Linked DNA regions of Homo sapiens: region 1 is linked to region 2. The links come from fine-mapping of genetic effects on gene expression. Tissue or cell type: whole blood. Region 2 holds a variant in brackets; the other region holds the start of a gene. All regions are shown on one strand. Distances are between the middles of the regions.

Region 1 (7,568 bases), 40 kb before region 2:
TTAGCCAGGATGGTCTCGATCTCCTGACCTTGTGATCCGCCCACTTTGGCCTCCCAAAGTGCTGGGATTACAGGCGTGAGCCACTGCGCCTGGCCCAGGAAGTATGTTTTAATAATTAGAACCTTTTGAAAGAAATGGATACCCTCACTGGAATTACTGCAGAGAGGATTCCAGATTAGCCTACATGACCTCTAAGTTTCTTTCCAACTCTATGACACTTGAGTCATGTGTCAAAACAAAACAGCCGGGTGCGGTGGCTCACGCCTGTAATCCCAGCACTTTGGGAGGCCAAGGCAGATGGATCACAAGGTCAGGAGATCGAGACTATCCTGGCTAACACGGTGAAATCCCATCTCTTCTAAAAAACAAAAAATTAGCCGGGTGTAGTGGTGGTCGCCTGTAGTCCCAGCTACTCGGGAGGCTGAGGCAGGAGAATGGTGTGAACCCGGGAGGCGGAGCTTGCAGTGAGCCGAGATCGCGCCACTGCACTCCAGCCTGGGGGACAGAGCGAGACTCCATATCAAAAACAAAAAACAAAAAACAAAAAACCATATTTGAGGGATGTAGAGGAAGGTAAGCGAATTTTATAACGAAAGAATTATTACCAGTTGTGGTTAAGGCCTGTACTGAATAGAGTCCGAGGAAACTGTTAGGTCTGTATTAATAAGTCTGAGGTTCTCTTATCAAGGAGGCAGGATCTGAATAGAATACTGAAGAGGACAGTAGAATCCTGTAAGGGAGTCACTCGAGACTTATATTAGGGAGAATATAATTATTGCAAAACTCATAGCTAAAAGGGATACATCTCAGAAATAGGCTAATTGGATAAAGTATGTATGCCTGCCATAGGAAAGGTGGAGGTTGGAGGAACAGGAGATGGAAGAACATTAGGCAATTATAATCCAGTTATCCTGGAAAATAACTTCGAAACACTAGGTGAAACGTTTATTTTGTTTATTTATTTATTTATTTATTTATTTTTGAGACAGAGACTCCCTCTGTCACCTAGGCTGGGGTGCAGTGGCGCAATCTCCTGTCACTGCAACTTCCGCCTCCTGGGCTCAAGCAATTCGCCTGCCTCAGGTTCCCCAGTAGCTGGGATTACAGGCACGCGCCCCCACGATTGGCTAGTTTTTGCATTTTTAGTAGAGACGGGGTTTCACCATATTGGCCTGACTGGTCTTAAACTCCTGACCTCAAGTGATCCGCCCACCTTGGCCTCCCAAAGTGCTGGGATTACAAACATGAGCCACTGTGCCCGGCCCATTAGGTGAAAATTTTAGACTTAAGACTTTGTACGTAATGAATGAGAGGGAGAGTGTGGTCAAAGCAATGAGAGAAGCAGTTTCTTTGAGTGAGTTGCTTGGTGCTAAAGGTGAGGAATCTCTAGGAAGAAAGGGCTAGTAGCGGGAGAAACCAGCGCAGAGATGCCTAAGCTAACACTGTGTCTTACATAACGCTGTTTATATAGATGAAGGGAAGAGGTAGATATGAGAGATACTGTAAAACTGTAAAAAGTATGGCAATAGCCTAGAAATGCAGACTGGTGAAGTCAGGGATTGGTGAGGCATTACTCACAAGCTCCTTCCTTCTGGAGAGAGTGGTGTTGCTCCTGTGATAAGGATGATGAGGATGAAGAGTATCTGTGTCTTCAGCACGCCTTACTGCTGTTGGTGATGTGTCTGATCTTTTATGCTGGCCTCTGGCCATTGCTCAAATTTATATATATATATATATATAAAATTTGAAAAAGTTAGGCTTGTAAAACCTAAAACCATTATGTTTTTTGTATTAATAGTATATGCATATATGACACCAGTTATATGCCAAATACTGTTTTAAGTACTATACATATATATTGACTAATTTAATTTTCACAATATTCCTATAAGGTAGATACTATTTGTTATCATCATCAGTTTACAGATAATGTACTGAGACACAAAAAGGTTATGTACTTTGCCCAGATCAAATAGTCCATAAGTATCAGGGCCAAGTTATGAACCCAAGCAGTCTGGCTTCAGAGCCCCTGCCCTTAGCCACTGCACTCTACTGCAGGCTGAGCAGCCCTTATCAGAAATGTTCGGACCACAAGTGTTTCAGATTTGGGAATATTTACACACACATAATGAGATATCTTGGGCATGCGACCCAAGTCTAAACACAAAATTCATTTATGTTTCATATACACCTTTATACACATAGCTTGAATGCAATTTAATACAATATTTTAAAAATTTTGTGCATGAAACAAAGTTTATGTTAAGTACTTACGTGAAATGTTCCACCTCTGGCATCATATTGGTGCTCAAAAAATTTCGAATTTTGCAGCATTTTGGATTTTCAGATTTGAGATGTTCAACCCATATATTCATCTATCTTTATATAGTATGCATGAATTAGCAGAGAAACCAAACCATTATCCCCAAATTAAAATTTTCTCCCATAATAAAAATCAAACAGTAAACCAAATTCCGGCTCTGTGACATCTTTATCCCTTTCGAATGAATTTTTTTCAGTAGTTGCAAACACTGGGAATTAGAAGAAAAGACAGGTATTTTAAACACAGGGAAACTTTAATCCAAATGGAAAGTTCATATTTTATCCAGTGTTTACACATAGTGTTTCCGTTCCCATTTTGGAGTTAATTTCAGTTATTTCTGGCTACACCCTAGATGGCAATGGAATAATTTCATAGTGCTTTTACAACAGGCAATATCTACGTCAGTGGATGGTTCATCTAAGGTCAACCTGGTTCAGGAAAGATATGCAAAGGAGAGCTTCATCCACCTCTTCTCCCAACCCTACATTTCCAGTGGTTGTTTTGTTCCTTCTTTGCAGTGGCTCCCGTCCTGTCTAATTTAAGCAAAATTTCAGTGTAGTACCTCCATTAACTGATACTTTTTATAAAGCAAATTGGGAAGCCAAAAGAATAACAGGAGAATGATCAAGATTTGAGAATTAAAAAAAATTGAATTAAGATGCAAGTAAACACAGTGGGAGAGGGGGATGGCGAGTCAATTGTATATAGTATATGTGTATGTATAAAACGCTTCTTTTCTGCCTCATTCACTCTCTTTAGACTGCATAAGCTAAAATGAGTAAGTTCTGACTCAGAAACAGGGTCAAAGATATATATTTTTTCTCCTTTGTCATCAAAAGAAGACCTGACCACGTGCACAGTGTATAAAGGATGCCAGTGGGAAGATTAACTTTACTGTCAGGCATTGTAAGGAAACAGAAACTCACATATGGTGAGATGGTAAAGGAGTTCAAGAGGAATTCATGGTAATATAATATGAGGAATGGGGCTACAATTGCGTCCCCAATGAGACTATAGAAGGCACACAATCCAGGCCAGTGCGATTTAACATCATGAAATAATCTCCAAAAATTAAAATCAAATAAGGTAGCATTTTACTCTCTTCTTGTAAATTTTATACCATTTTAATTTTTACTGGAGGCCTGCTGCTGACAAGGGTGTTTAAAAGAGATCCCCCTGGGTATTTTAGAGCTCCTTAACTGGATGGCAAGGACCAAATAAATGCCTTGTGCTTTTCTGCCCCACCTGTGCCTGCACCTGAGCTGCGCACGCGGTGGCACTGAGCCCTCGACTCACTCATTTGACAGGTGGAGGTGGGATGGGGAAGGCCGGAGACCGACCAACCCCAAAGGCGGTAGCGTGTGGAGCCGAACGCGGGAGGGGGTCGGCTGAGGCGGATTGAGGGGGGGGACGCCGAGGTGCGGCGACAGGACGCGGAGGACGAAAGACCTCAAGCAGCGGTGGCCGGCAAATGAGGTGGGCACTGGGGGACCCACCCTGCGAGGAGGCGGGGGCGGGGACGGGGGGCGCGGCGCGGCAGGGCGGGGCGGCAGCCGGGAAGCCCTCCTTCCCCGCGGCGGAGGTGACTGGCGGGCGGGGGGCGGGGGGCGGGGGGCGGGAGACGCTCTGTCCCACGCTTTCCCAGCGCTCGGTGGTTTAAAGATGGCGGCGGCGGTGGCGGCGGCGGCGGCGGCGGCGTTGGGGGCGCGGAGCCGCGACAGGAGGAGGGAAAAGCAGAATCTGTGAGTCGCCTGGAGGCAGCGCGGCGGCTGCCGTGAGGAGGCCGGGTGCGGAGCCGCCGGTGGCCCAGCCACTCAGGGCCAGGGCCTGGGCTGGGAGGGAGAGACCGGAGCAGCGCCAGGAGCCCGAGGCCGGAGCCGAGGAGGAATGTGACCAGGGGTCGGCGGGGGCGCGGGAGTACGCGAGAGCAGGGATGGGGCAGCAGGTGGGCCGCGTCGGGGAAGCTCCGGGGCTCCAGCAGCCTCAGCCCCGCGGGATCCGGGGCAGCAGTGCAGCCAGGCCCTCCGGCCGCAGGCGGGACCCGGCGGGGCGCACCACAGAGACCGGCTTCAATATCTTCACCCAGCATGGTGAGTGTGTCTGGGAGCCGGCATGAGAGCGTGGGGGAGGCCGGGGGTGGGGTCGGGGCGGGGTGGGTGGCGGACGGGCTGCCCGAGGGGTCGGAGGGTGGAAGGTGCCTGAGAGTGGGGGCGGAATCCGCTGCCATCTGGTCCAGTCCTGGGAGGCGAGTCACACCCCTCCCCCCTCGCGTCTCTAGCCTGGCTGGCAGATCCCGGGGGCGGAGAAGGAAAGAGAAGTGGGTTTGGGGACCCTGGATGGTCTGTCCTCTACTCTGGGACGGGACTATGCGGCTGCAGAAAGAAAGTGAATGGCAGCTTCAGGAGAGGGAAGGATGAAGGGCAGTATTAGCTCAGTCCCAGAGGTGGGAGCATAAACCCGTCGTTAGTGAAGGGGAAATGGGTTGTATCCTAAGGGATTGGGAAATGGGAACTGAATTTCAGGAGATTGTGGAGTACAAGGTATGTGTTTACGTTAGGTGATGAGCAGTGTCAGGATAGTGAACTGTGGACAGTGTCAAATGCTTTTCTGTAGGGAAGATGAAGTTAGCATCATCTTATCACTTTTGACATGCTTTTGTGGTTTATTTTGTTTTGTATTTCGTTTTTACTAGAAATGAAAGGCTTTGCCAAAGCCTCTGTACTATGCTTCAGAGTAGGACACACAATTCTGAGATTGCTGGCAAGGGCTAGAGGTTGGTGGGCATGGTTAGGACGTCAGTCAGGATATGAACAAGTTTTCCTTTGTAGTGTGTGCGTGTGCCCATATACATACATACATGTATGTATGCTCCCTGTAGTCTGAAACCTATTATTTTGATCTCATTGTCAATGTATTTTTAGAATAGTTGTCTCCAAACTTTTTTTGTCTTGTTTTTTTGTTTTGTTTTTGTTTTTGTTTTTTTTGAGACAGAGTCTCGCTTTGGTCCCCATGATGGAGTGCAATGGCGGGATGTCGGCTCACTGCAATCTCTGCCTCCCGGGTTCAAGTGATTCTCCTGCCTCAGCCTCCCGAGTAGCTGGAACTGCAGGTGTGCACCACCACGCCCGGCTAATTTTTGTATTTTTGGTGGTGGTGGGATTTTGTCATATACTCCTGACATCAGGTAATCTGCCTGCCTTGGCCTCTCAAAGTGCTGGGATTACGGGTGTGAGCCACCACCGTTCCTGGCCCAAACTCTTTTTTTTTTTTTTTTTTTTTTGGAGACGGAGTCTCATTCTGTCGCCCAGGCTGGAGTGCAGTGGCGTGATCTTGGCTCACTGCAACCTCTGCCTCCCAGGTTCAAGCGATTCTCCTGCCTCAGCCTCGGAGTAGCTGGGATTACAGGCGCCCGCCACCACACCCGGCTAATTTTTTGTGTTTTTAGTAGGGTGGGGTTTCTCTATGTTGGCCAGGCTGGTCTCGAACGCCTGACCTCATGATCCACCCGCCACAGCCTCCCAAAGTGCTGGGATTACAGGCGTGAGGCACTGCGCCTGGCCACATGTCTCCTATTGAAGATGTGCTTGAGTGTCTCTTTCGGGTATATGAACACTTTATGAAGGTGATATATGAGCTAATCTTTATTAAAATCACTTCCTAAAACACAGGATGGAAGAATGGATTAGTAGTTTACAGGGAAGAAATCATCCAAGTAAGCTTCACTTTGTGGGAAGTGTTACTATGCATTAAACTTGGCCTAGTAGGCAATGGTGATCCTCTTGCTTTACTATCTTATTCGGTATGTAAGATTTTCCAAGAAAGAGGAAGTCATGAAGAATGGAATAGGAAGACATTTTGAGGATTTGGATCTATGGAGAGGGAGAACAATTTGGGTAGAAGAAACAACTTGAACGGGAACATGGGAATAGATATAATTTGTTGATGGGCTAGTGAGGAGACAGCTGTCAGGAATGAAGCATCATTATGAGTTGGAAGAAAAAGATCATAGAGCAAAAATTGGAAGAGTCAAGTTCTGGTTCTGGCTCCACCTGCCTGGGTGATTTTAGTCACCATCTTTGGGTTTCTTTATCTGTAAAGTGAGGAGGTTGGACTGGATGATCTCTAAGATACTTTCTGGTTTTAAGATTTTATGATTCTAATTAAGAAGCAGTAGAAAGAAAATTTTGATAGGCTGGATGGGACTGGGTTATGGAAAATCTGGCAGAGAAGTTTATATCCATTTACCTGATTGGCTAGTCTTTACCTGAAAGACTGGCCTTGAGTGGTGGCAGTGGAAATGGGAGGAGTAATTTCAAGGGTCCTTTCATTCATTCAACAAACAAGGGTTTTTTTTGAGCACCTGTTATGTACTGGATTGTGGGAATGTTGCTGTGAACATAACAGAGTCCCTGCCCTTTGGAACTTAAAGGACTTTATGATTTGATAGAGGATGAAAGAAGAGAGATCACTTTGGAGTATTTGTTAAGGGCATGAACTCTGGACCCATTTTTCCTGGATTTGAAACCTTGCTTGGCTGCTTATGAGCTTTGTGACCTGGGACAAGTTATTTAACTTTTTGTGTCTTGGACTCTTCATTTGTAAAGTGGTGATAATAATAGTACCTAGTATTAAATGAATAGTGGCTGGGCACATAGTATGAGCTAAATGTGTGTAGCTGCTGCCATTACTAATACTACTGTTATTATTAAAAACAGGAGTAATTCGGCCAGGTGCGGTGGCTCACGCCTGTAATCCCAGCACTGTGGGAGGCCGAGGTGGGCAGATCATGAGGTCAGGAGTTCGAGACCAGCCTGAGCAACATGGTGAAACCTCGTCTGTACTAAAAATAGAAAAATTAGCTGGGCATGGTGGCACGCGCCTGTAGTCCTAGCTACTCAGGAGGCTGAGACAGGAGAATCGCTTGAACCCGGGAGGTGGAGGTTGCAGTGAGCCAAGATCGCGCCACTCCAGCCTGGGTGACAGAGCGAGACTCTGTCTCAAAAAAAAAAAAAAAAAAAAAGTAGGGATAATTCAAAGATGACACCAGGATTTAGAACCTGGCTAACTGGGATGATGAAGATTCTATTGACAAGTTTGGAAGTTAGAAGCTGATTGAAAAAATGGGAATAGGTCGAGTTTATTGCCAAAGACTAGTATGAAAAGAAAGGAATTAGCAAATAATATAGGAAACAAAGGTGCAGTGAGTACTGTTTTTTAGACAGATGGGTTTAAAAAGTTTTTTTCT
Region 2 (7,568 bases):
TGAGTGACAGAATGAGACTCTGTCTCAAAAAAGAAACAAACAAACAAAAAATTAAATCCCACTTGCTTACCTGAAAAAAAAAAAAGCAGACATTTAGGGCTGGTTTGAGTTACTGATTTGACAATAATATTCACCTTTAGAAAGAGCCTAGTACATTTTTAAAGTTTAGAAATTTTGTGTGATTTCATTGGCCACTTTTTCTGGTAGTGTTGCCACAAATTGACTTCTTCGGGCACTTTAGAAAAACAGATTATTATATTTTTTTTCTTGATACATGAAAATTATGGTTCTCATTTTTTTTTGCAAGTTGTGCCCTTTTTTGGAAATTCAGAAAGGCTGATATTTGGTGTGAGTTTGTATAATTTTCTCCATCATACCATGTATGCTGTTTAAATGTTTACCTTAGAAAAGTATGAAATATGATATGACCTTTGATATAGACAACAACGCAGAAGATAATTCATTCTGTTACCAAAGATATTTTAAGAGTTTAATGTTATCTTGATTTCTTTCTAGTAATTTAAGTAGTAATTCAAATAGACATAATACAGTGTGACTTAATGCTTTAAAGAAAAATACGTGAAAAGTTCTGTACTTGAAATAGCAAAATTTTAAGAAAATAATTCAGACTCTTGTATTTATTAGGAAGAAGTTATCAGACTTAATGTTTCAGAACATACTTTGAATAACCAAAATTTATTAATTTACTTAACCTAGTTTTAAAATTTTTTCTATGTGATGTGATTGTACAGTTTTTCTGCATGCCATGTGTTTCATTCTTTTATGTCTGGCACATAAGTAATTAAAGGTTAAGTCAATTGTCAGATTTAACTCAACCTGCTTGAGTTAATTTACTTGATTTTTCTGGTACTTACAGGTACAACAAATGGGTGAATTGGTGTGCCATTATGATAACATGACTTGGAAAATGGAAATTCAGGCAGTGTGGGACAAGAACAAGGATATTTATTTGTCCAGTGAGAATAAAAGTGGTCTAGGATTTATTGAGAGTTTGTTGTAATTCGAGCTTGAGTGATAATTTTATAGGATGTTATGGAGATAACAGTGTTGGTGGAAGGGTTTGACATTCCACATTTGACATTCTCTTATCATATTTTTTGGTTTGTCTCTGTCTCCCTAATGAAATGAAATAGGAAACAGCTAGAGAGTGGTGGGATATGAGTAGTTGTGCATTTGGATAGATTGACTAGCATGCTCAAGATGCCAGCCATATCTACCTTTGGTAGAGTGAGAGCCAAGGTATTCCTGTGGATTGTTTTTCGTAACTAAATCTGTAACTACTGAGTATAGAGTCCCTGCTATATACGTGACTAACCAAGGAGTGAAATATGATTGGTTCAAATATTTTGTTATATTTTGACTGTAGGGGAATGGTAAAATGTCACCAAGTATAAGTTACTCTTCTGCTTTATACTTTGTTTGCAATTAAATGTATTTTTCTTAAAGAGAATATAAAAGCAAAGGAAAAACCATTTGTAATGCTTTTGCTTAGGTCCAACCTTAATTTTTATATGACAGTTTCCAATTGATTGTCAGATTTTCTGTCTCATTTCAATTGAGTAATTGTTCCATCTGTCATTTAACATGACACAGACTGTTTCTTAGTAATTGTTTTGAAAACTCTTTAGTGATTTTTAAAAACCTTTACAGAGTGTTGATTATTTAAATGATAGCAGAATATGTATATATGAAGTAATTTCAGAGGCCGGACAAGGTGGCTCATGCCTGTAATCCCAGCACTTTGGGAGGCCGAAGTGGGTGGATATCACCTGAGGTAATGAGTTCAAGACCAGCCTGGACAACACGGTGAAACCCTATCTCTACTAAAAATACAAAAAATTAGCTGGGTATGGTGGCACATGCCTGTAATCCCAGCTACTTGGGAGGATGAGGCAAGAGAATCGCTTGAACCCAGGAGACAGAGGTTGCAGTGAGCCGAGATTGTGCCTTTGCACTCCAGCCTGGGCAATAAGAGCGAAACTCCGTCTCAAAAAAAAAAAAAAAAAAAAAAAAGGGATTTCATACAGAAAGATTAAGGTTCTCATACTATCATACAACATCTAATAATTTAATATAGAAGAATTGGAAAAGTATACAGCCTTATTTGATTTTGAAAATTAAGTGCAATCATCTATTACCTTATAGCTGGCAGAAATCAGTGCTTATTCTTTCTAACTTTGGGTTTATAATCCTTACCCTTTGTGATGTAGTAAGAATATAAAGTACTGGGAAGACCATTAGTCTAGTATTGGTCCATGAAGGATTTCATTACTGTCATCATTCTGGGTTTTCTTTTCTGAAAGTGACGTTCTTCCTGTGGCCTTCTTGGCAATTGAGAGGACCGCTGTTTTCAAGAGAACTGGGAGTGGCTTCCTATCTAAATAGGGACTAGCTGTGGTTAGAAGGGGAAGTGGGAAGTGGCTGGATCGCTGCCTCTACTTTTTCCTATTAAACGCTTTTTCCTCTCAACTCCATTACCAGGCCTAGGACCTTAAATTCTGGATATAATGGACCATATCCTGGAATATTGTTTTGTTATGGCAACTTTGGTGACAGAATTTCTTATAACAATGAAACATTATGTGATATTGTGAAATGTATATTTGGTCTTTATTCCGTTTCCCCGGCCAAAAAAAACCTCCTAAAATTCTAGGACTCTCACTGGTGATTAGAGCATCTTTTGTATGCTAATGAGGTGACTGGAGGCTGGGGACCCCTAGATAGCTTCAGGATGGGGACTGGTCACCTGAAAGACTGAGGAGAGGCGTGATTAGAAGGTTGGGGCTTTCATCACTCACCCCCTCACCCCCCTCCATCCCACCCCACCCCCCACGTCTCTGTGGAGGGGGGAGAGGCTGAAAGTTAACGTCATCAACGTCATCAACAATGGCCAGTGATTTAATCAACTATGCCTATGTAATGAAGCTTCCACGAAACCTAGAAGTACTGGGTTGAGACAGCTTTGGGATAGCTGAACACATGGAAGTTCCTGAAGGACTCTGCTCAGCCCCTCTTCTCCCACACCTTGCTCTGTGTATCTTTTTATTTGGTTGTTCATCTGTATCTTTTGTAATATCCTTTATAATAAATAAGTAAACGTATGTAAAGTGTTTCCCTGAGTTCCGTGAGCCACTCTTGCAAATTAGTCTAACCAAGGAGGGGGTTGTGGAAATCCCAGTTTATTGCCAATCAATCAGAAATGGCATCTGAAGTCTGGGACAGTCATGTGGGCCTGAGCCCTGGACTTGTGGAATCTGACACTATCTCTAGGTAGGTGGAATTAGAATTGAGTTAAATTGTAAGACACCCAGGCTGGGCCCGGTGGCTCACGCCTGTAATCCCAGCACTTTGGGAGGCCGAGGTGGGCAGATCACCTGAGGTCAGGAGTTCGAGACCAGCCTCAACATGGAGAAACCCCGTCTCTACTAAAAATACAAAATTAGCCCGTCATGGTGGTGCATGCCTGTAATTCCAGCTACTCAGGAGGCTGAGGCAGGAGAATTGCTTGAACCTGGAAGGCGGAGGTTGCCATGAGCCGAGATCACGCCGTTGCACTCCAGTCTGGGCAACAAGAGCAAAACTCCGTCTCAAAAAAAAAACAAAAAAAATGGTAAGACACCCAGCTTGTGCGCTTCTGTCTCTAGGTAGATAGAAGTGAGTTAAATTGTAAGACACCAGCTTGTGCACTGCTTGCTTGGTGTGTGGAGGAAATAACCCCACACATCTGGTGTTAGAAATATTGTGTTGAGTGGTGAGAGTAGGCCAAAACACTTTGGGGTT[T/C]TGTTTTTTCTATCCTCAGACTCCTCTTACCGTTTGGTAGCTGTGTCACCCTTTATGAATGAATAAATGAATGTACATAACGACTTCCTAGTGACAAGACGATTGCTAATTAAGATGTAATATGATACAAGAGTAGGGAACATTTAAGAAAGTAACATTTAACTTGTTCTCTGAGAAATTCCTGGAGAGTCTTATTAAAATACCCTAGAACAGGGCAGGGCGCGGTGGCTCATGCCTGTAATCCCAGCACTTTGGGAAGCCAAGGTGGGCGGATCACCTGAAGTCAGGAGTTTGAGATAAGCCTGGCCAACATGGTGAAACCCCGTCTCTACTAAAAATACAAAATAGCCGGCTGTGGTGGTGCATACCTGTAATCCCAGCTACTCGGGAGGCTGAGACAGGAGAATCACTTGAACCTGGGAGACGAAGGTTGCAGTGAGCCTAGATCGCACCATTGCACTCCAGCCTGGGCAACAAGAGTGAAACTCTGTCTCAAAACAACAACAATAACAACAACAAAAAACACCCGAGAACAACATGAAGATTGTCATGTTTTGGCCATTAGTGTTCCACATCATGAGAATGCAGAATTAAACTGGAAAGTTAATGTAATTCAGTCATTGTTATAACCTGTTAAATTAACATGTTACATTTTGTTTAATTTTGAAAAATTAACTCGTTAATATAGTTCAAGATTTAAGGGGTATACATTTAATCTCCCTATATTTCTCTCCCTTTAGCCTCTTCTCTAGAGGCAATCAATAGTCTCAGTTTAAATATACTTTTAACATTTATTATTTAAAGGACTTCTTTGGTGTGTATGAATAATTAAAGTTGATAACATGGATTCTAGAGTCAGACATTTTAGATTTTCATCTACTCAACAGTTACTGAGCACCTACCAGGTAGTTTCTTGGCACTGGAAATACAGCACTGAACAAATCACAGCCTTCTTGGAAATTACATTATAGTGCGTGGAGACAGGTGCTAACTAAATATTTATTTACTATACAATGTGGTGATTAGTGGTAGGAAGGAAGATAGTGCTGGGTAAAGGGAGAGAGTGATAGTAGAGGTGCTGTTTTAATTTTATTTTTTTGAGACAAGAGTCTTGCTCTGTTGTCCAGGCTGGAGTGTGGTGGTGTGATCTCGGCTTACTGCAACCTCTACCTCCCGCGTTCAAACAATTCTCCTGCCTCAGCCCCCTGAGTAGCTGGGATGACAGACGTGTGCCACCACGTCCCGCTATTTTTTTTTTTGTATTGTTAGTAGAGATAGGGTTTCGCCATATTGGCCAGGCTCATCTCCAACTCCTGCCCTTAGGTGATCTACCTAGCTTGGCTTCCCACAGTGCTGGGATTACAGGCCTGCGTCACCACGCCCAGCAGATGTGCTGTTTTAGATTGGGTGGCTGGGGAAAGCCTCTGATGGGGTAACGTTTGAGCAGAGAATTACTGAAAGAGTCAAACTTTTGGCTTTTGAGATAAAAACATTTCAGGAAGAGGACCATCAAGGGCAAAAGTCTGGAGACTGTATTTACAGTAGAGGTGTATATCCTTCCAGAATGGCAGAAGAGGCTAGACTGGCTGGAGAAGAAGGCTGAAGGAGAATGGTAGGGGATAATATATAAGAGGAAAAAGAAAGTAAAAGAATTGTGTGGGAGTAGTGATGGGGATTGCTGATGACTGGTTATGTAGGATTTGTATATCATAAGGAAGTAGGATTTTATTCTGAGTGGGATGGGAATCTTTTGGAGAGTTTATAGGGTTCAGTCTAGCTGATTTGTGGACAATAAACTCTTGGGGACAAGGGTGAAAGCAGAGAGATTAGTTATGAGTCTGAAATAGCCATAGAGTATACAACACTGTACTAGATACAGTGAGCTTTATCAAATTTAGTTAGTATTATTTCTTCCCTAGATTTGACTTTTACCCCTTGAGGAATGGAGGTAAGAAGTAAAAATGAATTCATAATGAACATTTATATTTGTAAATGATAACTTTAGGAATTACAGTTAAACTCTGGAGGGATTCAAATTTGTACAGATCCCTTATTTCAAGAAATATGGTAAAATTCCCCAAAGAAACTCCAATACCTTTTATAGTTATATTATAGCATACAATAATTTTTTTTCTTAGGCCTTCCAAAAAAGGCTGTGTTGCACAGTTTTGACAAATTAAATATTGGGTACTATTTTTTCCTCCCCATTTTGACTAGATGACATTTTGAATTTGAAACTTCTTTGGTTTCTCCAATGTATATCAAAGTGCTAGAAAGTATTTAAAAGGCAAAATCCTTAGACTTTAAGCAACCAAGTTGCTAGTGATGAAAATAAATGGAATATAAAAATGTCAACTTGGAAAATTTAAACTGACAGAATAATATGTTTGAATTTACTGGCAAACCTGCTGCATCTGGTATTGCAGAAAGGAGTGGAATGTGGGAAATCTGAAATCTGAGGATCTCAGAACTCCTAATAACTAACTGGGTGAATGAAGGCCCTTGAGTCAAAAATGAAATCACATATAAGAGAGACAAAGAGACTAGACATGGTAAAGATGTAGAAAATGGAAAACCAAGGTGGACACTGAAAAGTACACTATAAATGGTAATGGGGCCGGGCGTGGTGGCTCACAACAGTAATCCCAGCACTTTGTGGGGGCAGGTGGATCACTTGCAGTCAGGAGTTCGAGACCAGCCTGGCCAACATGACATAACCCCGTGTCTACTAAAAATACAAAAATTAGCCAAGCATGGTGGCATGCACCTGTGGTCCCAGCTACTTGGGAGGCTGAGGCCTAAGAATTGCTTGAACCTGGGAGGTGGAGGTTGCAATGAGCCTAGGTTGCACCATTGCACTCCAGCCTGAGTGACAGAACGAGACTCTGTAAATAAATAAATAGTATTGGAAGCAGAAGAGAAATGGGAAATGAAAGTTAAATGGAAAGTCCGGCATATTGACAAAACTTTAAATAAATATTTGCTGGATCCAGTCAGGTTTAAGAAAGAAGTTGAGGCCGGGCACAGTGTCTGAAGTCAGGAGTTTGAGACCAGCCTGGCCAACATGGTGAAACCCCGTCTCTACTAAAAATACAAAAAAATTAGCTGGGCATGGTGGTGGGCGCCTGTAATCCCAGCTATTTGGGAGGCTGAGGAAGGAGAATCGCTTGAACTCAGGAGGCGGAGATTTCAGTGAGCCAAGATCACGCCATTGCACTCTAGCCTGGGCAAGAAGAGCGAAACTCCCTCTCAAAACAACAACAACAACAAAAAAGAAGTTGAAATGGCTGATAAACCCAAACACACACGCTCAAAAAGAATTGTGAAATAAATTCCAAGGCTAGTATACATTACTCATTAAGTAGTTGTAGCCCAGAAGAGGGCATTGCCAATTTTTTTTTTAAGACAGCGTCTCCCTCTGTCACCCAGGCTGGAGTGCAGTGATGCCATCTCGGCTCACTGTAACCTCTGCCTCCCAGGTTCAAGCGATTCTCCTGCCTCAGCCTCCCGAGTAGCTGGGATTATAGACACGCCCCACCATACCCAGCAAATTTTTGTATTTTTAGTAGGGACAGGGTTTCGTCATGTTGTCCAGGCTGGTCTTGAACTCCTGGCCTTAAGTGATCTCCCCGCCCGGGCCTCCCAGAGTGCTGGGATTACAGGGTGAGCCACTGCGCCCGGCCCATTGCTAATTTTCTCTACTCTCAATTTCTATTAATTTGGTTTGCTTGTCTAGGCTTCCTAAAATAGGACTTATAAAAGTAGCT

What was found. PIP is the estimated chance that this variant, and not a neighbour inherited with it, causes the effect.
Region 1: ABL2 starts here. The variant in region 2 is fine-mapped to the expression of ABL2 in whole blood (TOPMed, PIP above 0.99).

Annotation. Positions count from the first base shown.
Region 1 is chr1:179,226,086-179,233,653 of GRCh38, reverse strand. ABL2 (ABL proto-oncogene 2, non-receptor tyrosine kinase) reads left to right here and starts at 3,977. Exons shown (of 12, transcript NM_007314.4): 1 at 3,977-4,413. The coding sequence starts at 4,257. RefSeq lists a silencer at 4,062-4,471 and an enhancer at 3,927-4,683.
Region 2 is chr1:179,185,880-179,193,447 of GRCh38, reverse strand. The region is part of intron 1 of ABL2 (ABL proto-oncogene 2, non-receptor tyrosine kinase); the gene reads left to right. Among named protein-coding and RNA genes, the nearest start is that of ABL2, 40 kb to the left of the region's middle. The variant T/C (reference allele first, on the strand shown) is at 3,802.